3 linked regions of the Homo sapiens genome follow. The protein of the gene in region 1 interacts with the protein of each later gene in a pairwise test. Each region holds a gene or a part of one and is shown in the gene's direction. Other genes may lie near its edges.

The links. Proteins that work in one complex are often made in the same cells at the same time.
Region 2: the proteins of ELAVL4 (region 1) and NSMCE2 interact in binary tests that used the Homo sapiens proteins (3 or more experiments, as listed by UniProt).
Region 3: the proteins of ELAVL4 (region 1) and TMT1A interact in binary tests that used the Homo sapiens proteins (3 or more experiments, as listed by UniProt).

Annotation. Positions count from the first base shown.
Region 1 is NC_000001.11:50,188,896-50,195,921, forward strand, and holds part of ELAVL4 (ELAV-like protein 4), read left to right. Parts: intron 1-4,869; coding exon 4,870-5,023; intron 5,024-6,665; coding exon 6,666-6,891; intron 6,892-7,026. UniProt on the Homo sapiens protein: RNA-binding protein that is involved in the post-transcriptional regulation of mRNAs. Plays a role in the regulation of mRNA stability, alternative splicing and translation.
Region 2 is NC_000008.11:125,101,842-125,108,867, forward strand, and holds part of NSMCE2 (E3 SUMO-protein ligase NSE2), read left to right. Parts: intron 1-172; exon of another isoform or gene 173-209; 5' UTR 210-305; intron 306-475; 5' UTR 476-489; coding exon 490-646; intron 647-7,026. UniProt on the Homo sapiens protein: E3 SUMO-protein ligase component of the SMC5-SMC6 complex, a complex involved in DNA double-strand break repair by homologous recombination. Is not be required for the stability of the complex.
Region 3 is NC_000012.12:50,920,729-50,928,022, forward strand, and holds the start of TMT1A (thiol S-methyltransferase TMT1A precursor), read left to right. Parts: upstream 1-4,286; 5' UTR 4,287-4,310; coding exon 4,311-4,808; intron 4,809-7,294. UniProt on the Homo sapiens protein: Thiol S-methyltransferase that catalyzes the transfer of a methyl group from S-adenosyl-L-methionine to alkyl and phenolic thiol-containing acceptor substrates.

The DNA of each region.
Region 1 (7,026 bases):
GGGAAATGAGTATCTCCCTGTTGGAAGCAGCCCTCTGTATTGCATGCTTCATTTGTTTACTTTCCTTTCCAGACTGGGATTCGTGAAGCAGAGACATTCCCAACACCCATCCCAGGGCCTGGCACATAGTAGATGTTTAGGAAGGGGAGGAATGAATGAACTCCCATCTTCTAATGCCAGTGTTTTTCTAAAGGAGCAATTTTCTGGGGCTAAAAAGGATGCCTTTTCCCTCTCATTTTATCCTCCTCATTGCACCCAACATGCCTTTATCGTGTTTTCCATGTCCTCTCCCTTTTCTGTATTATGGAGGACAGACAAGGAGTGAGGTATTGCTGGATGATTCAGGGAACATTCTTCCTCAGGTCATGCTGTTCTTCCCACCCTGCCCAGGCCAAGCCCTGTGTATGAACAGGTAAAGGGAGTTGTGGGTGCTGCATGGGAAGAGGCAGCCCTCAGCCCTCGTCCTGATGCCCCATCTGTGATGAATGACAACGCCTGCTTTACCCACCTTGGTGAGACTTGCTGAGAGCAGAATTGGGAAGTCACTTTGGAAAGTGGAAAGTACTTTGTCGGCATAAAGCAGTGGGATCTGTGGAAATGTGTTAGAGGACATTCATGTCAGTAAAGTGGTAAAAGATGGTCCAGACCCCACCAGGGTGGCAGAGGAGGGCAGTGCCTCTACAGGCATTCCCTGGTAGTGTTCCACATGTTTTTTTTGTTTGTTTTTTGGGGGTTTTTTTCCGGTGAAATTGGAGGGTATGTCCCAATGGGAGCTAGATTCCCAGGCTGGCCCACAAAAGCCTGTATGACTCATCACATAATAATATGTGTAAGTATCTACTAAGTTCTAGGTATGTGCTAGACAAATATATCAACTCAGTTCTTACAATAACCCATCAAAGGATAATTGACCCCCTTTTTACGAGCAAAGATGTTGAGACTTATCAAGATCAAATTACTTGCCTAAGGTCATGCAGCTAGTGAGTACTGGAGCTGACCCACAGTCAGGGATCATAAGCATGATGCTATAGCATCCTTCTGGTGGAGGATGGGAAGACTGTGAGCACCAGGGATGGGGAGAGCTGAGGAGCTTGGAGGGACTTCAGATCTTCCATAGAGATCATCTGTAAAGTCAGCTGCTTACAGTCACCTGGCTTTGAGCCACCCCTACCCAGAGAGAGGAGTGGCTTCTTCACTCCCAGCCCTTTCTGAGTTCCAGAAGGAGGTCAGTGCTGGCCTAGAGATGCCAGTCTTGTCTTCAGAGATTCTGGATGAATGAAGCAAACAGGATCCTGACTGAGGCAAGGGGGGTTCTCCAGGGCGCTGGCTCCAGTGTTGGAAGCCCTGTGACTCCAGGCCACTGGCCCAGGGGCATTAATATGCCATCAATGCTGACCCTGAAAATTGGCAATTTTTTGGAAATCTTTCAGCCTAACCAAGGGCCTGACCACTGTAGTCATTCAGTTAGAATTTAATACATGTATATGGAAAGTTGAAAATTTTAGGTACTAGGATGAACATTTGGATATTCAATGCAGGAAGATCTTTTTTCTGTCATTTTTGTTTATCCATACGCCACAGGTTTCATGGACAGGAAACTGAGAGAACAATAGACTTAAGGTTCCATATAGGTGAGAAATACTAAACAGGAATTAGACTTGGTAGAGAATGATTGATGTGCTGTTCACCTTTGGGATTTGTTGCTGCCTTTGGGGATTTAGGGTCTGTCTCTGGAGATGTGTTGCAGTAATTCTCCCTAGCTGAGATTCTACCTATGTTGGAATCAACTTTTGGGGAAATGGTTTTTGTTGTGTCACCAACTTTCAAGTGCCAGCTCCTCTTCCCTGGCAGGGTTCACCCTGTTCCCTCTGTACCCTAGCTCTGGCTGTGCAGAACTAATGGGAGTTAAGGTCATGACTATCCATTATGCATTTATTGGGTGCCAGGTACTGTGCTAAGCCCTTGATCTTCATCACCTCATTTGTCCTCGTGACAGAGGAAGGCTATTATCAGGCCACCATTACCTGACTCCACCACCACCTTTCTCACCACCAGTCTCAGCTCAGCTGTGTCTCCTTCCCGGCCCTTTTAACCTTTGATTAATCTCTCCCTCCTCTGTGTTTTAGTCACACTCATATGTATCCCTGGCATAACACACACATCTTGTGGCACTGTGATAATTGGTCTGTATGTTTACTCATCCATTCTTTTGTTCAACACATTTTATTGAGTGCCTCTTATGTGTTGTCTGTTGCCCTCTTTGGACTTGGAGTTCCTTTACAGCAAGAGACTATGCCTTGTTCTTGCTGTGTTGCCAACACATACCACTGTACCTGGCTCATAGTAGATCCTCAGGAAATATTTGCTAAGAGAAGGCCTCTATGTGAGGTCTAGTCCTAGAACAATCTTCTTTCAGTCCTTCCAGCCCCAGGCATTGGAAAATGGGAAATATGTCCCTTAGCTCTTAGCTTGGTGGAGAAACACAGCTGGGATTCTGGGTGCCTGACTCTCAGTGGTCCACCTTACTGGAGTTACAGTTAACTCCAAAGAGCCAATAATATCAACATCATTTCTCATGAGCTGTGGGTGTTTATTCATTTTTTCAGTAGGTGTTGAACACTTTATAGGTATCAGGCTATGTGCTGGGAGCTAGAGTCACAGAGTTGAATAGGACACACACACACACAAGACCTACAACCTAAAGAGATCATCAGCCTAGATGGAGAGGTGGTCAGTTAAGGTTGAAACGGGTTAAGTACCATGGTTCATTGAGAACACTGCTGGGGAGATTTTTAGGAGAAGGTGAGATTAGAGAAAGCTGCCTAGAGAAGATGTCATTTGATCTGAGCCCTGAAGAGGAGTAGGATTTGGACTTGAGGAAGTAGGTATAAAAAAAATGTCTGTATGAGCAAAGGTATAAAGGTGGTAGGTTGTGTTTTGAGGGAGCACAAATGTCATTCGGATAATTAATTTGTCAGTAATTGGCAAGGTGAAACAAGGGTGACCCTCATTGCCATGGGCATATCACTATGATGTTTTTATTTCCTTCTTCCACTTCTTCCTCTTACTCAAAAAATAGTTCTGCTATTGACACACTTTGTCCCTTAAAGAACAGGGGTGGGAGAACCTTCTGTGGAGTGAAGCCCTGTCCAGACAGTCACATGGGGTTCTTAGTCCTTCAGCCCACACTGCAAATGCACACACTGGGACCCCCTATATAAAGGCCCCTCTACATCTCAGCCATGTGCTGAGAAGGAGCCCACAGAGGCCTCCCAGCCCACCCGTGAGTTTCTAGAAGATGGAGATACTGAAGGCAGCTGCCTCACTCCATCAGCAGGAGGAGGCCAGGGAGGCAGATTAGTCACTCACATCATTTTATCTGTTGAGTCAACATCTATTTTTAGGCATGGAACCCATAAAGGGACCTGGCATGTCTGTCATGGAAAGGGGGAGAGTGCCATGGATGAGGGTTCTGCTCATCCTTCATCTTCTTTGCTAGACCCATTCTCTCCCCTGAAGGTCACAGAAGCAGGGTCCACATTACTGCTGGAGGTTTAGGTCTTAATGTCAAAGGTCTGGTTTAATGTGTTCAATTCCTTTTGCACACATGCTTTTGTGTGCACGCACACACACACACACACACACACACACACACACACACACACACACTCTCACCCCTACAGTCTTAATAGGTCTTATGAATCAGTTGTATGGATTAAATAGAACTTCCAACTGAAAAACGCTAAGGCATATAGGTCTCTTCCTGTCCAACGTTGTCAGATGTGCTCTGAAATGACTGTTTTCATCATCTATTCTGAGCCATAACCACCCCAGAAATAGCTTTAGCAGGAAAGTGCTTTTGTTAGACTAGCTGTAAATTATATTTCAAATGTCTGATGTTGTTTTCTTAAAAAATAAATAAATAAGTAAATGAAAGTCTAAAATTAATGACTGCTGGGGTTTGCTTTGCTTATGTGTACTGCTACAGATTTGGCTTCTTGCAGATGGAATTTCAGATCTGTTTACACTTCTGTGTTAGCTTTTGGGGGGAAGAAAAGCAGTTGAGAGATCTGGGAGGACAAATTTACAAAGTCGAACTTATTATAACCATTGGTGAGGCTCTCTTCTCTCTCTCTACTGCCCTTTCCCTCCCTCCTTTCCATCTTGCCCCCATTTTATTTGTTGTGGTTTTTATCTGCCCTGCTTCAAAGTTAGAGGCGACTGGTCCTTGCAGATGTGACGACAAGGTCACATATCCAGTTTCGCAAGCAGATGTTCATTCAGCCCTATTTCACCAGCACTTTGTCATTTGGTGAGAGCAGACCTCATGGGAACAGACTGGAGCAACACAAAGGATGGAACATAAAAAAATCTTGCAGAGAACCTGATTGCTTTTATGTATTCAGGAAGAAGGGGATGGGGGTAGGGAGGGTGGCAAGGAGAGAAATGTGCAGAGCAGAATTTCATGAGGTTTTTTTTTTTTTTCTGGTTTATTCAAAGATTATTATGTGTTGGATACAGTAAATCATCTATACACCCACTTCCAGGAGGTAAATCTTCAGAACTCCATGTGTGGGTAGCTCTGCATTTAACAGCTGCCATACAGTAGCTATTTTGTTCTGCACTTAGAGACCCTTATCTGTGCATTTGTTTTAAGTTATTGTCAACTCTCCTGTTGTTCCTCTATTGTTGTTCTCCTGGTTCTCATTACTATTACAAGGGTAGCTAAAAATCTGAACTACTGAGTGATTTAAACTGACACCATGAGTTGTAACGGTAGATGAGGGGCTGTCATCTTGGTTGTGGACTCAGCATCTACTCTGAGGGTGATTGCCTATAATGGAATTAGCTCCTCTTGCCTTTTCCTAGGTCTCATATGCCCGTCCGAGCTCTGCCTCAATCAGGGATGCTAACCTCTATGTTAGCGGCCTTCCCAAAACCATGACCCAGAAGGAACTGGAGCAACTTTTCTCGCAATACGGCCGTATCATCACCTCACGAATCCTGGTTGATCAAGTCACAGGTTAAGTGTTTCTTTGTAATTTCTTTCCTTGTATATCAATGTCATCAGCCCTGTTACTCATAAGAGCAGAAGGCTGATGGCTGCTTAAAGCAGATGATATGGATCATGAATAGACAGATTTTTGACTTGGAAGAAAGACTTCTTATCGGTCAACTGCCCAAATTTAAAATGGGCCATCTTGGGAGGTAGGAGTTCTCCATCATGGGACTTGTTTTAGCAGCAGCTAAACTACTTGCCAGGGTTGTAAAAAGGATTCAGGCATCAGGCTGAGAGTGGAACTGTATGACCTTCAAAGTCTGATTCAGCCCTCAACCAAATAACATTACTTTTGTATGTGAAAAGAACCTGTATGCATAGCTGTAACTCCAATTCATAGCATTATAGAGTTAGAAGGAATTGTCCCATTTCACACTTGAGGAAACAGGTTGAAAGTGGGGGATCTGACTCCCCAAAGCTAGTTAGTAGCAGTACAAGGATCTGAACCGAGGATCTGGTACTGGTGTTCTTTGTCCATAATAAAGAAAGGCAGCCACCACCTCTCAGTAAGAAATGTCAGGTACTCTGGGTTGCACTTTTAATGACAAGGTGTTTTCGCCTACCTCCAATTTGATTCCAATTTAGAACTCACCCCCTGAGAATAGTTTAGCACGTTTATCATGTGATTCATGAGACAAACCTTCACAGAAGTCTGCTCTGCCCTAGACATTGTGCAGAGGGACCCTGGAGACCAAGAAAGAAGCAGGCACTGCCCCACCCTTACAGGACTCCAGTGTGGAGTCCAAATACTTGCTAGAAGCTGTCAAGTGCCCCTGAGAGCTCAGGAGAAGGTGTGCCATGCCTGGTGGGAATTGCTAGGAGGGCCCCATTGAGGAGGCAATGTTTGAATAGGAGTTTGGAGGATGTTTCAGAGGTATCCAGCAAAAAGGAGGGACAGAGCAGTGTAAGTGGAGAGGAGAGCATATCCCAAGGCATGGAATCGAGGAAGAACAGTCTATTCGAGGAGGATCAGGCAGTTCAGGGTGGCTGGTGTGAGCCTCAATAGGGAATTTGGGGCCAGATTGCCAGAGGCATTGAATGCTGTGCCAAGAAGTCTGGACTTTATCTGGGTGCAGAATGGAGCCATGGAAGGGTATTTTGTAGGTTTTGTTTGTTTGTTATTCATTTTAGAATGGGAGTCAGTGAAGAATAGGTACTATGCACAAGGTACAAAATTCAAAAAGTACAAAAGAGATACAGAAGATGTTTTTAAAGCATATCATGTGGTCAGAGTTCACTTTTCAAATAGATTGCACACTAGCTACATGTGGAGGACACATGAGAAGACTAGAAACTGGACAGTGAGTGATCAGTTATAGTAACTTTTGGGAGGTGATGATGGGGCAGAGCAGTGATAGAGGACTAGAGGGGCCAGATGCAAGAGAGCCCTGTGTTCTGTGGCTGGGAGGCATCAGTCCAGAGCCATGATAGCAGGAATGCAGGTAAACGTGTTTTGATTGGTGAGAGAGATCAGGGAGCTGGGCTCAGCCCTGGCACCACAGGTGGGCTTACTCCTCACACAATATCCACAGGACCCATCTCTTCCCAAAGATGTTTACCAGTTTGGTGTGTTCACTCTTTACAAAGGCTCTTTCTCTTTCCCCAGGAGTGTCCAGAGGGGTGGGATTCATCCGCTTTGATAAGAGGATTGAGGCAGAAGAAGCCATCAAAGGGCTGAATGGCCAGAAGCCCAGCGGTGCTACGGAACCGATTACTGTGAAGTTTGCCAACAACCCCAGCCAGAAGTCCAGCCAGGCCCTGCTCTCCCAGCTCTACCAGTCCCCCAACCGGCGCTACCCAGGTCCACTTCACCACCAGGCTCAGAGGTTCAGGTAGGCATGCCCAAAGAGGAAGAAGCCCTGCTACAGGGGTTCATAGCTGGGCAAGAGCCAGGGAAGCCCATGGTCCTGACAAATGGGGCAAGGGTAAAAGCTTCCACCCCCAGGAATCACTGTGCAAAACTCCCC
Region 2 (7,026 bases), on another chromosome or scaffold:
TTTTCTCTTTTTTTTACAGTTTCCAGAATTCAGTATGCATATATGTTGGATAGTTTAACGATTACAGGTTTTCAAAATAGTTTACTAATAAACTATTTTATTAGTATTTTTTTCTCTTTGGAAAATTGCATCATATGAGTGGTCTACTTTTTCTAACCCATTTATCTTGTAGGCTTTTAAGAACTGTGCTATTGTTGACTTCTTCACAGAATCAAGCACTCTTTTGGAAGAGGGTAATCTCTCTCCAAAAACTGAGGACACTTACCTTCCCCATATATTGAGTCCAGCTGTGTTTGGTGGCCCAGGTGAGTGGCACAGTGATTTGGTGTCTTCTCTATAGGATATACAGAATAGTGTGGCATTTATGAGATATTGGATACATTTGTATGAATGTTTACAGCAGTTTTATTAATATTTTCCTGTGCAGTTATTATTCTGACTTACGAATCTTGTTTCATTGTGTTTGAAAACTTAGGTACTAATTTCAAGATGCCAGGACGTTCCAGTTCAAATTCAGGTTCAACTGGTTTCATCTCCTTCAGTGGTGTAGAGTCTGCTCTCTCCTCCTTGAAAAACTTCCAAGCCTGTATCAACTCTGGTATGGACACAGCTTCTAGTGTTGCTTTGGATCTTGTGGAAAGTCAGAGTAAGTAAAATTAAAACCTCTTTTGTGTCTACTTTGAGGTAACACTGTGTGGTGGTATTTATCTGGGGGTGCCTTTTGAGTATCCTTGGGGGAATGATTTAACCCCTCTAGGCATCTGTTGTCTCATTTTATTCTACACACCGCAGCAGGGTACTGAGGGTGAAATAAGATTGACTCATTCATGTGTGTTCAGACAGTTAAGTTCCATGAGAAACTGCGCTAGAAATGTATGGGCAAAGATTTGAAGATCCTGACCCCAAGGAGCATACAATCTAAAGTATTTGACATTTGTGAACTGTAAGGTATATAAATTTATTATGATATTGTTATTTTTCAGTAGTTTATACTTTGGTCATACTTGATTAACCAGTAGATAGACTAAGCTTATGCTAGGGATACCAGCAAAGGAAGGCCTCAACAAAAATGAGAAAAGTTCAACTTTAATGAATTTTACCTACATTTGTTCAATCAAGAAGATCTAGAAAGATGTGATTTGCAGGCCGGGTGCAGTGGCTCACCCCTGTAATCCTAGCACTTTGGGAGGCCGAGGCCGGCAGATCACGAGGTCAGGAGTTTGAGACCAGCCTGGCCAATATGGTGAAACCCCGTCTCTACTAAAAATACAAAACCAACATGGTGAAACCCCGTCTCTACTAAAAATACAAAAAATTAGCTGGGTGTGGTGGCAGGTGCCTGTAATTCCAGCTACTCGGGAGGCTGAGACAGGAGAATCACTTGAACCCGGGAGGTGGAGGTTGCAGTGAGTCGAGACCGAGCCACTGCACTCCAGTCTGGACAACAGAGCAAGACTCTGTCTCAAAAAAAAAAAGAAAAAAGATGTTATTTGCTTTCTTTGGAGTAGAATCGTTTTTATTTTATTTTACACATGGAGCCAGAGGAGCAGCATGATCCTTTTGTTTTGTTTTTATTGGCATAGGTTTTGAGCAATTTGTGATGTGCCGTGGTGTGATTTTTTTTGTCCTGACTGATATTGTTTGAGATTTATGGATCTGTCAGCTTATAGTTTTTTGAATCAAATTTGGAAAAATTTCTGCTACTATTTCTTCAAATATATTTTTTTAATTCCTCTGCTCTCCTCTCCTTCTGTGTGACTCACATTTCATGTATGTTAGATGGGTTGATATTGTCCCATAAATCAGTGGAACTTGATAGATTTTTTCCAGTCTTTTTACTCTTTAGCTTCAATTTGAATAATTTCTATTGCTAAGTTCATTCATCTTGTCTACTGCAGTGTCTAATCTGATAATTCCATTTAGTGAATTTAAAAATTTCAGTTACTGTATTTTTAATTGTTGAAGACATAACAAAGAATTAAGTAGAATCTTTTTTTTTAGTCTTCCATTTCTTTCTTCATTGTGTCCATATTTTCCTCTACATTCTTGAGTATATGGAGCATGTTTATAATAGCTATTTTAATATCCTTGTATGTTAATTCTGTCATCTCTATGTGTATTATGTTGTTGAGTGTTTGGATTTTGTTGTCTTTTTTTTTTTTTTTTCAGCCGGAATTTTGCTCTTGTTGCCCAGGCTGGAGTGCAATGGTGCGATCTCGGCTCACTGCAACCTCCGCCTCCCGGGTTCAAGCGATTCTCCTGCCTCAGCCTTCGGAGTAGCTGGGGTTACAGGCATGCGCCACCACGCCCAGCTAATTTTGTAATTTTAGTAGAGACGGAGTTTCTTCATGTTGGTCAGGCTGGTCTCAAACTCCCAACCTCAGGTAATCCGCCTGCCTTGGCCTTCCAAAATCTTGGAATTACAGGCATGAGCCTCCATGCCCAGCTTGTTGTCCTCTTTTAAATAGTGTTGGAGTTTGTTTGGTGTGCAGCTAAGTGATTGTGGATTAGGCTGATCCTTTCTAGGCTTATCGTTAAGCTTTGTTAGGTCAAGTCTAATATAGCCTTTATGTTAGGGCTAATTTAGCCTTGTTACAAAGCATGGCCCTTCTGGAGTCTCTCTTGATTGCCCCGAGGGTTCAGTGCGATAGCTCTACTCTGGCTGGATGGAATTTGAGTGTCTCCCGGTCCTAGGTCCTACGTGACTGAACCTGGGAGTTGTTCACTTTATAGCTGTCAGTATTTGTTGCTCAGCATCTTAGGACTCAGCATCAGACTCAAGGGGACCCCAGTGCAGATTCCTAGAGCTCTTTATCTGCATAGCTCCCTCACTCTCTTGCAAACCCTGCTGGCTGCCTCAGCCTCCCTGAACTGAAGTCTCTGTCTCCTCAATCCTTCAAGACTGCTGTGCTAGGCCGAGCATGGTGGCTCCTACCTGTAATCCCAACACTTTGGGAGGCCGAAGCAGGAGGATCTCCTGAGGTCAGGAGTTCCAGGCCAACCTGACGAAACCCTGTCTCTACTAAAAAACAAAAATTAGGCATGGTGGAGGATGCCAGTAGTCCCAGCTACTGGGGAGGCTGAGGCAGGAGAATTGCCTGAACATGGGAGAAGGGGGTTGCAGTGAGCCGAGATTGTGCCACTGTACTCCAGCCTGGGGAAGAGAGTGAGACTCTGTCTCAAAAACTCCCTTGGATTCCTCCTCCCTTGCGCAGGGAGGAGGCCATTGCAAGACTTTTCCCAGTTTTCCCTTATTGCAGTAATTACAGTCCTGTCCCGCCTTTGTCCTACTGTCCCACAGCTATTGTTTCATATATTTTGTTTAGTTTTTCAGTCATTCATGGCAGGTGGACCAGCTCCATACAGTTATTCATTTACGGCTAACAGCAGGTGTCACTCATAATCTTTTTAGTGGGTGGCCTCCAAATGTTTTAACCCTACCCAGTCTGTTTTTGATTATGTTTTTGGTGATCATAATTTAGCTTTGATAGATAGGCCTGGATAAAAGTCATAATAAAATCTTAAACCATAAGAGAGAAGACTGGAACATAACCCCTTGGGAGATTGTATCAGTTTTTTTCAGGATTCTTTTTGAAGATTCCTGGGAGTTTTAGCTACAGAGTTTTTTTTTTCTCTTGGTTTTGTTTTGTTTTAAATAAGAGGTATATTTTGTTGTAAAATACAACATGTGCAATTTAAGAAGAATTATAAACATCATTTTTTGAAAGGTTCATGCTCTAAAGCCAAAGTTGGCAAAGTTTTTCTATAAAGGGCCAGATAACAAATATTTTCAACTCTGTAGGCCATGTGGTTTCTGTCACAACCCGCTGTTGTAGTGCAAAACCCACCATAGATGGTACGTAAATGAATGGGCATGGCTGTGGTCTTATAAAACTTTATTTACAAAAATGGGCAGTGGGCCGGATTTGGCTCACAGGTCTTAGTTTGTCAACCCCTGCTTTAGTGCCGCAGATTGTCATTAAGTAATTTTTAAAAGAAAGATGTATTTATTTTTTAATATTTGGATTAATTTTACAGCAAATACTTGATTTTGCATTTACCAAAAAAGTTAATTTAAGAAAAATTTTGAGCAAGTTATATGGGAAAAAAAGTGAACTAAACAACTTAGACAGACACAGAGTCACCAGGAGCCTGGACTTCTTATGAACTCAATATGTATATGAATACATGCGTGTGTGTGTGCATACACACACACACACACACACACACATTTTAACTAATACCAGGAGTCAAAATAACAAAGTAGTCAACATAAACTAACCAAGTGACTATTCTGCATATAATTCAGCTCTAGGTTTTAAAGAGGACATAAACAAGTATTAAGTAGTTCTTCCCTTCATAGAGTTTACCATCTTAGTGGGAAGACAAACACATATTAAAATACTAAAACAATGAGAAAACAGAAAAGATGTTATAAAGCTGCAAATAACTAATATCACCACTGATCTTATCAGAAAAGTCATACGCTCTCAAATTTATAATGGTGAACACAAATTTTTCAAAGTTCTAATTTTTTCTTTAAAACTTTCACTTTGGGCTGAGTGTGGTGGCTCATGTCTGTAATCCCAGCACTTTGGGAGGCTGAGGCAGGTGGATCACGAGGTCAGGAGTTTGAGACCAGCCTGACCAACTTGGTGAAACCCCATCTCTACTAAAAATACAAAAATTAGCCGGGCGTGGTGGTGCGCACCTGTAATCCGAGCTACTCAGGACTCAGGAGGCTGAGGCAGGAGAATAGCTTGAACCTGGGAGGCGGAGGTTGCAGTGAGCAGAGATCAGGCCACTGCACTCCAGCCTGGGCGACAGAGCAAGACTCCATCTCAAAAAAAAAAAACAAACAACTTTCATTTTGGCCGGGTGCTGTGGCTCACACTTGTAATCCTAGCACTTTAGGAAGCCGAGGCTGGAGGATCACCTGAGTTCAGGAGTTGGAGACCAGCCTGGCTAACATGACGAAAACCTGTCTCTACTAAAAATACAAAAATTACCTGAGCGTGGTGGTGGGCGCCTATAATCCCGGCTACTCGGGAGGCTGAGGCAGGAGAATCGCTTGAACCCTGGGGGCGGAGGTTGCAGTGAGCCGAGATCACGCCACTGCACTCCAGCCTAAGTGAAAGGGCAAAATTCTGTCTCAAAAAAAAAACAACAAAAAAAAACTTTCATTTTACCATTAGCAACAAATGCTGTTAGTTGTTGTCTTTGAAATTACAGTTGCACAGGCTCACTTTCTTCATTTTTGAGAAAATGTCTTTCAGATACCCAAACCTGAATAACCATAGTTTGTCTGTGAATTGTTCTATATTGTACTGTTTTATCAAGGACATTCTTTTTTTTTTTTTTTTTTGAGATGGAGTCTTGCTCTGTCCCAGGCTATAGTGCAGTGGCACGATCTTGGCTCACTGCAACCTCCGCCTCTTGGGTTCAAGCTATTCTCCTGCCTCAGCCTCCTGAGTCCTGAGTAGCTCGGATTACAGGTGCACACCACCATGCCCGGCTAATTTTTGTATCTTTAGTGGAGACGGGGTTTCACCATGTTGTCCAGGGTGGTCTTGAACTCCTGACCTCGTGATCCACCCTCCTCGACCTCCCAAAGTGCTGGGATTACAGGCATGAGCCACCAGGCCTGGCCTATCAAGGACATTCTTAAATGAAACTAGCATTTGTTTTACTATGAGTGCTTGGTAGAGAGGAATACAATGATCTATTAGAGTGCAACAGTTTGGTGCCACTGCTCTGATTTTTGCTAAGGCACCAGCAGTTTTTTCCACAATTGCTTTTGCACCATTAGTACAAACATTCAACATTTGTACTAATGGTGCAAATGTTAAAAAAGAAAAAGAAAAACAAACAAACCCAGACAAATAGCATCTTAAAATTATGATGTAAATAAGCTAGGCCTGGTGGCTGACACCCATAATCCCAGCACTTTGGGAGGCCAACCTGGGCAGATTGCTTGAGCTCAGGAGTTTGATACTAGCCTGCAGCAACATGGCAAACCCTGTCTCTACAAAACATACAAAAATTAGCCAGGCATGGTGGTGCACACCTGTAGTCCCAGCTACTCAGAAGGCTGAGATGGGAGGACAGCTTAAGCTCAGGTGGCAGAGGTTGCAATGAGCTGAGATCACACGACTGTACTCCAGCCTGGGCAACAGGGCCAGAGCCTGTCTCAAAAAAAAAATAAAAAAAATTATGATGAAAATAGTTTCGACCCATGGATCCCCTGAAAGGGCCCAGAAGAAATTACGATGAAAATAGTTTTGACCCACGGACCCCCTGAAATGGCTCAGAAGACCACACTGAGAACAAACTGAGTTTGATTGCTTATGAATAGGAGGTAGATGACATGAGAAGTCCTCTGCAGAGAGAAAGCCAAGGGCAATCACTCCCACTGGGGTAATTCAGCAAGAACTTGTTAGGGGAGCAGTGTTAATGTGATACCAGACTGAGGTGCTGTCCAAGGACCCAGAGAGTAGGAAAACACCGGTTGTTTAAGGAAATTGGAGGGTAGATCAGCCTGTAACAGTAGATGAAAGACTTGTAGAAGGCTGATACTAAGGCAGCCAGTATCAGCACTTAAGTGCACGCTTGCTATTGGGTCCAGTCCTAACTCTGTCATAAGTTCTGTAACTTTGAGTAAGGTACCTAACTTCTTTCAGCTTCTAATTTCTTATCTGTGAAATAGGATTAAAATGCCTGCTTCATAAGATTGTTGGGACTAATGAGATAATATATGCTAAGTGCTCTCAGCCACAATGTTAATTCAATAGCTATCATATATGACAACCAGCAATTAGTAAAATTTGAGGGTCAGAACTTAGAAGAAGGGCCTGTGATGTGAAGAGGGTAAGAAAGATGGATGAGTTTGGAAGTCTGTGTAAGACTGAGTCCAGCTAAGTCACTAATTCATCAGATATGTTGCCAAAACTACAAAGATAAATAAAGGTTTCTTCCTTTGAGTTGTTTACAGTCTAGGTAGGAAATAAGACATATACTTGTTATTCA
Region 3 (7,294 bases), on another chromosome or scaffold:
AAGTTAAAAATTGCTAAGAGTTACCATTATAACATGTAAATGAGACTACTGAAAATAGATTTACATACAAGGTGTGTAAGAACAGTAAAATGTTTTGTGGTAAAATATTATAAAAAGGCATGGAAATGTAAATATTGCCTAAGGATAAAGGATTGTTTTGAAACCAACTTAAGGGTAAAATCTTGCTTTCTCTCCCTTGTATACGATTGTCATGTAATAGTGAAGAATAATGAAAGATTTTCATTTGCATGGTGGATAGACTGCCAAGAAGAGGAAAGAAGACAGGAGACAAACTTTGGAAAGCTAAGTCTTCCCTCTTAATGAGTAAAGATTTTTGCCTTGTTTTAAAATTTTTGAGTCATCATTTAGGCAAAGTAAATAACTTATGGTAACCTGGAACTGTATTTCATAATATCAAGTGTTTTAAACCTCTAACATTTAACAGGCTTTTCAAAATCAAACTTCAGTTTCAAAATTGTCTTTCCTGACCCTCTAGCTTTTCAATGCTACAGAGGGCCCTGAAGCATCCAGAAGAGAGGTAAACAGGATTATTTAACATATTTAGGCACGTGGAATTGCCAAAATGATGTTTAATGTTCTTCAGGTTATATTTTAGTGAATAATACTGATATGTGTTCCAAAATTGTATGGGATGTCTAAAATTCCAATGTCTGAGTACATGTTATCAATCAAAATTAAGGTTATGTTAAACCATTGTCAACCACAGAAATAACCAGATTTGTCAATCGTGTTTTTAACTGTAACTACCCTAGAAATTTTGTCATTCACAGACAATTGTCGTCTTGTTTTAAGCTTTTTCAAGAGACAGCTTATAATCAGCTATAAGACTTTAACAGGTGCTTTCACATGCAGGTTTCTGATAACTTTGGAAATCGTGACATGGGAGTAAAGACATACATACTACCAGTTTAGATTCTTTAATGGTTAGTAGTTTAATCAGATATTCTATGTCTTCTTGAATCAATTATGGTATTTTCAATTTTGCAGAAAATTAATTTATCCAACTCTTCAAACATATTAGCATAAAGTTGTGCCTAGTATTCTCATATAAATTTTTCTATATTATCTGTACATGTGCCCTTTTATTCCTATTATGTCTTTTCTTGAAGTCTTATTACTTTTCATTGAGATAAATTTACATATAATTAAAGTGCAAAAACTTTAAGTGTACAGCTTGATAAATTTTTACATATATATGTGTGTATATATATATCTGTTTAACTTCCAACAAAATCAAAATATAGAACATTTCCAATATCCCTAGAAGGCACCTTTGTGGCCTCTAAGTCAATAACCCCAAAATGTCTATGTAAGTAAGTCTGCTTGAATTTCATGTAAATAAAATGCTACAGTATGTACTCTCTTCCTTTAATCTGTAAGATTAATTTTTGTTGTTGTATGTATCAGTAGTACATTTGTTTTGTAGGGCTTTTTGAAAATTAAGTATTCCATTATTTGAGTTGACCATTCAATTTCATTTTTATTTTTTATTTTTATTTTTTTGAGACAGTCTCATCTCACTCTGTCGCCCAGACTGGAGTGCACTGGCACAATCTCAGCTCACTGCAACCTCTACCTCCCAGCTTCAAGCAATTCTCATGCCTCAGCCAGGCTGGTCTCAAACTCCTGGCCTCAAGTGATCCGCCTGCTTGGCCTCCCAAAGTGCTGGGATTACAGGTGTGAGCCACGGCACCCAGCCTGATAATTCAATTTCATCTGTCTCAACTGGGCTTTGTGACCCAGGTATTGTCCTTTGCTAAGAGCCTCAGAATGCTGTTTTGTTTTCACAATTCTGAAAAACAGTTTCAGGAACAACATTCAGGCTATTTCCCTAAACAAAAACAAAAGATAAGTGCAAAAGAAAAAAAGAAAAGAGTGTGTCACCAGAAGGATAATGAGGTTGTCTGATTTGTAAAAGGAAATATCTATAGCTGGAGATAAATGGCAAAGTTGTCCAGCCAGGTAGGTTCCCAAAAGTATTTTAATTTTCTTAATGATTATGTCTGGGGTTACTTTGGTACTTTTCTTACAAGCAAACTTTGTGGCCATAGGCCTCTCCATTTTAAAAAGAATAATTAAATTCTCTACAAAATTACTTTCATTCTCCTTTGCTGAGGGCTTTAGAATCTTCCAGTCCTGTGGAGTTGCTCAGTTTCTTCCCTGGATCCTGTTTTCAAAAACAGACAGAAGGGCAACCCGCTCGGGTCCCCTTCCACACTGTGGAAGCTTTGTTCTTTCGCTCTTCACAATAAATCTTGCTGCTGCTCATTTAAAAAAAAAAAAAAGGAAAGGAAACAGGCCACAGACAGAAAACAGGCCACTGATTGCCTCAGGATTAGGAATGCAGAAGGGAGGATCACAATGGAGCAAGAGTAATCTTTTAGGGGTGATGGATATGTTCATTTATCTTGGCTGAAGTGATGGGTTCACAGGTATATAGATATGTCAAAACTTATCAAACTGTACACATTAAATATGTAAAGTTTATTATATGTCAATTCCACCTAAAAAAATCTGTTAAAAATGGAATAGATACAATATTTATAAAATACATGCAGGTTATAACAAATCATGAAACAACAGAACACTCCCTGTATCCATCACCCAGTTTTTTAAAGTAAATGTTTACTATTTTTAAAAAATTATTTTTTTCTGTGTTCCCTAGCCACCCTAAAGCTCAGGCCTTTTTCTTTTTCTTCTTTCTTTTTTTTTTTTTTTTTTTTAAAGAGATAGAGTCTCACTATGTTGCCCAGACAGGATTTGAATTCCTGGGCTCAAGGTATGCTTCTGTCTTAGCTCCTCAGTAGCTGAGACCATGGGCACCCACCACTGTGCCCAGATTCGGGCTTTCTTGTAAAAAGCGGATGGATGCTTGAAACTATTTTCTGAATCCCTTTGGCTCCCAAATGTGAATATTCTGGGAAATATTTTTATCCAAATTAGCTGAGTAATCGAGTAGTTAGGCACATTTTGAAGACTGAGGCTTGTCCTTTAAAAGAAGGGCAGCCCACAAACTGACTTCCTTGAGCCAAAAATTGTTTTAAAAGGGGAAGTACAGCCCAAAACAGTGATTTTAAAATATCAACAAAAAGAGTCAAATTCTGTAAAATATTTAAAGAGATTTATTCTGAGCCAAATATGAGTGACCATGTCCTGTGACACAGCCCTCGGGAAATCCTGAGAACATGTGCCCAAGGTGGTCAGGGTACAGCTTGGTTTTCTACATTTTAGGGAGACATGAGGCTTCAATCAAATACATTTAAGAAATACATTGGTTCAGTCCAGAAAGGCAGGACAACCCGACGCGAGGCAGGGAGCTTCCAGGTTATAGGTACGTTTTAAATTTTTCTGGTTGACAATTGGTTGAGTTTATCTAAAGACCTGGGATCAATAGAAAGGAAATGTCTGGGTTGCAATAAGAGTTGTGGAGACTGAAGTTTTATTATGCAGATGAAGCCTCCAAGTAGCAGGCTTCAGAGAGAATAGATTGTAAATGTACTTAAGGTCTGCGTTGATGTGAATGCCGGCTTGAGGTATAATGAGGCATATCTGACCCCCACTTCCCCTCATGGCCTGAAACAATCTCTCAAGTTAAATTTTAAAAGCGCCCTGGCCAAGGAGAAAGTCCATTCAGATGGTTAGAGGCCTTAGAACATTATTTTTGGTTTACAAAAACGTTGAGTTGTGAACACTGAGAGCCTCTGCCCAGAATGTAAAAGAGAGAATTCTTGCTGACTGTGGCCGGGCATGCATGTCCTTTCACTTCCTTTTTTTTTTTTTAAAAAAAAAAAAAAAAAAAAAAAAAACAGGGTTTGGGCGGGGGAAGTAAGGGGGATGTGTTATGATAAAGGGGCCTTGGCAGCACTCTTCTGGTGTGGTTTGACCAGGCTCCACCCACGAATTCTGTTTTCTTTTAGAGGTCACTGGAGAGCCCGGTGGGGTGTAAGTACACTGCGCTTATAAAACTCTAGCAGGAAGCTAGCAGCTGTCTCCAAACCCAGAGAAGGGGAAACAGGAATCGATTAGGAATAAAGGATTATAATCCACTTTCCTTCTGAGGAAAAGCTGGGAACCTTCTCATTTTGCCTTATGAAAACTAAGCTGAATCGACTGCTGCCAAACATCTATTAGGCAAAATTGGCCTCTTGCCCATGATTTGACTTTCCAGCACAGCCAGTTCTTTTTCTCCTCTGCAGCTGATTGGCTCTGGAGTGTGGCCAGAAGCCTCTCTCCTGCAATTAAAGGAGTCGGGTCTCTAACTGTTGATCTGTTTTTTTCCCTTCTGAGCAATGGAGCTTACCATCTTTATCCTGAGACTGGCCATTTACATCCTGACATTTCCCTTGTACCTGCTGAACTTTCTGGGCTTGTGGAGCTGGATATGCAAAAAATGGTTCCCCTACTTCTTGGTGAGGTTCACTGTGATATACAACGAACAGATGGCAAGCAAGAAGCGGGAGCTCTTCAGTAACCTGCAGGAGTTTGCGGGCCCCTCCGGGAAACTCTCCCTGCTGGAAGTGGGCTGTGGCACGGGGGCCAACTTCAAGTTCTACCCACCTGGGTGCAGGGTGACCTGTATTGACCCCAACCCCAACTTTGAGAAGTTTTTGATCAAGAGCATTGCAGAGAACCGACACCTGCAGTTTGAGCGCTTTGTGGTAGCTGCCGGGGAGAACATGCACCAGGTGGCTGATGGCTCTGTGGATGTGGTGGTCTGCACCCTGGTGCTGTGCTCTGTGAAGAACCAGGAGCGGATTCTCCGCGAGGTGTGCAGAGTGCTGAGACCGGTGAGTGAAAGGGTGTGAGGAGGACTAGTTAGTAGCAGCTATTATCATAGAGGGCAGGCCTGTCAATTTCAGGTGGCTGAAACATTTTAACATAAAAAGTAAACTACTAGAAAATACTGTAGAATTTTTTAAAATTTTAGCGTGGGAGAGAAGCTATAAAGAGAAAGATTGATAAATCTGAATATAAAAACTTAAAACTGCTATAAAGAAAAAACCTCCTGGCCGGGCACAGTGGTTCACGTCTGTAATCCCAGCATTTTGGGAGGCCAAGGCAGGCAGATCGCTTGAGGTCAGGAGTTCGAGACCAGACTGACCAATATGGTGAAACCCCATCTCTATTAAAAATACAAAAATTAGCCAGGCATGGTGGCAGGTGCCTGTAGGCAGGAGAATCGCTTGAACCTGGTGGGGCAGAGGTTAAAGTGAGCCAAGATTGCACCACAGCACTCCAGCCTAGGCAACAGAGTGAAACTCCATCTCAAAAAAAAAAAAAAAAAAAAAAAGAAAGAAAGAAAAAAAAGAATAAGAAAAAAAAACTCCCCAAAACAAAGTTAAACTACAAAACAAGCTTGGAAAAAATATTTGCCAGGGATGATAGACAAAGGGTTAACTTCCCTCATGTTAAAAGACATTACATGTCAATAAGATCAATATTTTTCAATAAGAAAAACAAAAGGGAAAATGGGCAAATAACAGGAACAGAAATGTAAACCAATTATAGGACAAAAGTGCTCAAACTTAAAGAGTTAATTAAAGGAGATACTAATTTTACCTATTATACTGTTAGGGACTTCTTTTAAGGTCAGTATAGGGTTGGGGTGGGTTTAGGGGACTGGACACCACCATACACATTAGAAGAGGTACCCTCTTTGGGTGGTATCTGATAATATCAAAATTTAAACCACACATACTCTTTTATCCACATGCAAAAACTTGTCCATACACAAGAATATTAAGTAGAATTTGTAATTGCACAAACTGGAAATAACTGAAATGTCTATCAATAGGATGCTATGTAAGTGAGTTGTCATATTGTATAAAGGAACACTGTGCAGCTGTCAGAAAGAACAAGAAGAGTTATCTGTGCTGATACTTAAAAATCCCCAAGGGATAATGTTTAATGAAAACAAAAAGCAATCAAGCCACAGAATGTTAGGTAGAGCGTAGGCCCACCACATGCCCATTGTGTGAGGCAGGGAGAGGAGATACATATATGTGTATAAGTTAATGGGAATGACAGACAAGTAACTATTAACAGTGGTTGCCTTTGGGGAATGGGATTGGATTCAGGGAAAGAATTACTTTTCATTTTAAACCTTTCCGTAAAGTCTGTAATTCTTTATACCTGTATGTAGTTTTCACATATTACCCTTATTATTTTTAGCTAGTTTAAAATCGTTTTATATTCTGAACAAAGTTGAAGATATGGATATCTTAACATTTGAATTTACTCTTCTGGGGGAAAGGCATGTTTTGTAATCCCCAGTTTTCATTTTTTGTTGAGACAGGGTTTCCCTCTGTCACCCAGGCTGGAGTGCAGTGGCATGATCACAGCTCACTGCAGCCTTGACCTGCTGGACTCAAGCAATCTTTCCGTCTCAGCCTCCCCACCCTCCCAGCAGCTGGGACTACAGGCATGCACCACCACACCCAGCTAGTTTTTGTATTTTTGTAGAGATGAGGTTTCGCCATGTTGCCCAGGCTGGTCTCAAACTCCTGGGCTCAAGTGGTCTGCCCACTTTGGCCTCTCAAAGTGTTGGGATTACAGGTGTGAGCCACCATGCCCAACCATCAGTTTTATTTTCTAATAGAGGAAGTTCCTCAGGAAGAAAAGAACTTGGAGATAGGGTTTAGGGAAAATCATACAATCCTGTCTTGGCTCAATATCAGAGTAGTAAATAAAAAAGGACTGATTCTTATACCCAAATGCTGGGTTCTTATATGCTAAGACTGGGCACCAACTGGCACATTAGTAGATGTTTTGCTTACAGTGTTACTAATCTCCCAACACCGCTGCAAGGCAGGTAATTATTATCTCAGTTTTCCAGTGCCAAAAATCAATTGAACTCTTAAAGTTATCACATTCGTGATAGTCTTCCTTAGCTCCTGCCAAGCACCCACTCTCTGCTGGATATAACAAGGGAACTTTATTACATTTTCATTTAACCCTGTCAACAGTCCTCTAAAGTACATATCTTCATGTTAGGACAAAGAAACAGACTCAGAGAGATTAAGGAATTTGCCCAAAGTTACACAGCTAGTAGACATGGCTCTCTTTAATGCAAATGCAAATATTCCTTTTTTTTGAAACAGAGTCTTGCTCTGTCGCCCAGGCTGGTGTACAGTGGCATGATCTTGGCTAACTGCAGCCTCCACCTCCCAGGTTCAGTGACTCTCCTTGCCTCAGCCTCCCGAGTAGCTGGGTTTACAGGCACATGCTACCACGCCTGGCTAACTTTTATATTTTTAGTAGGGATGGGGTTTCA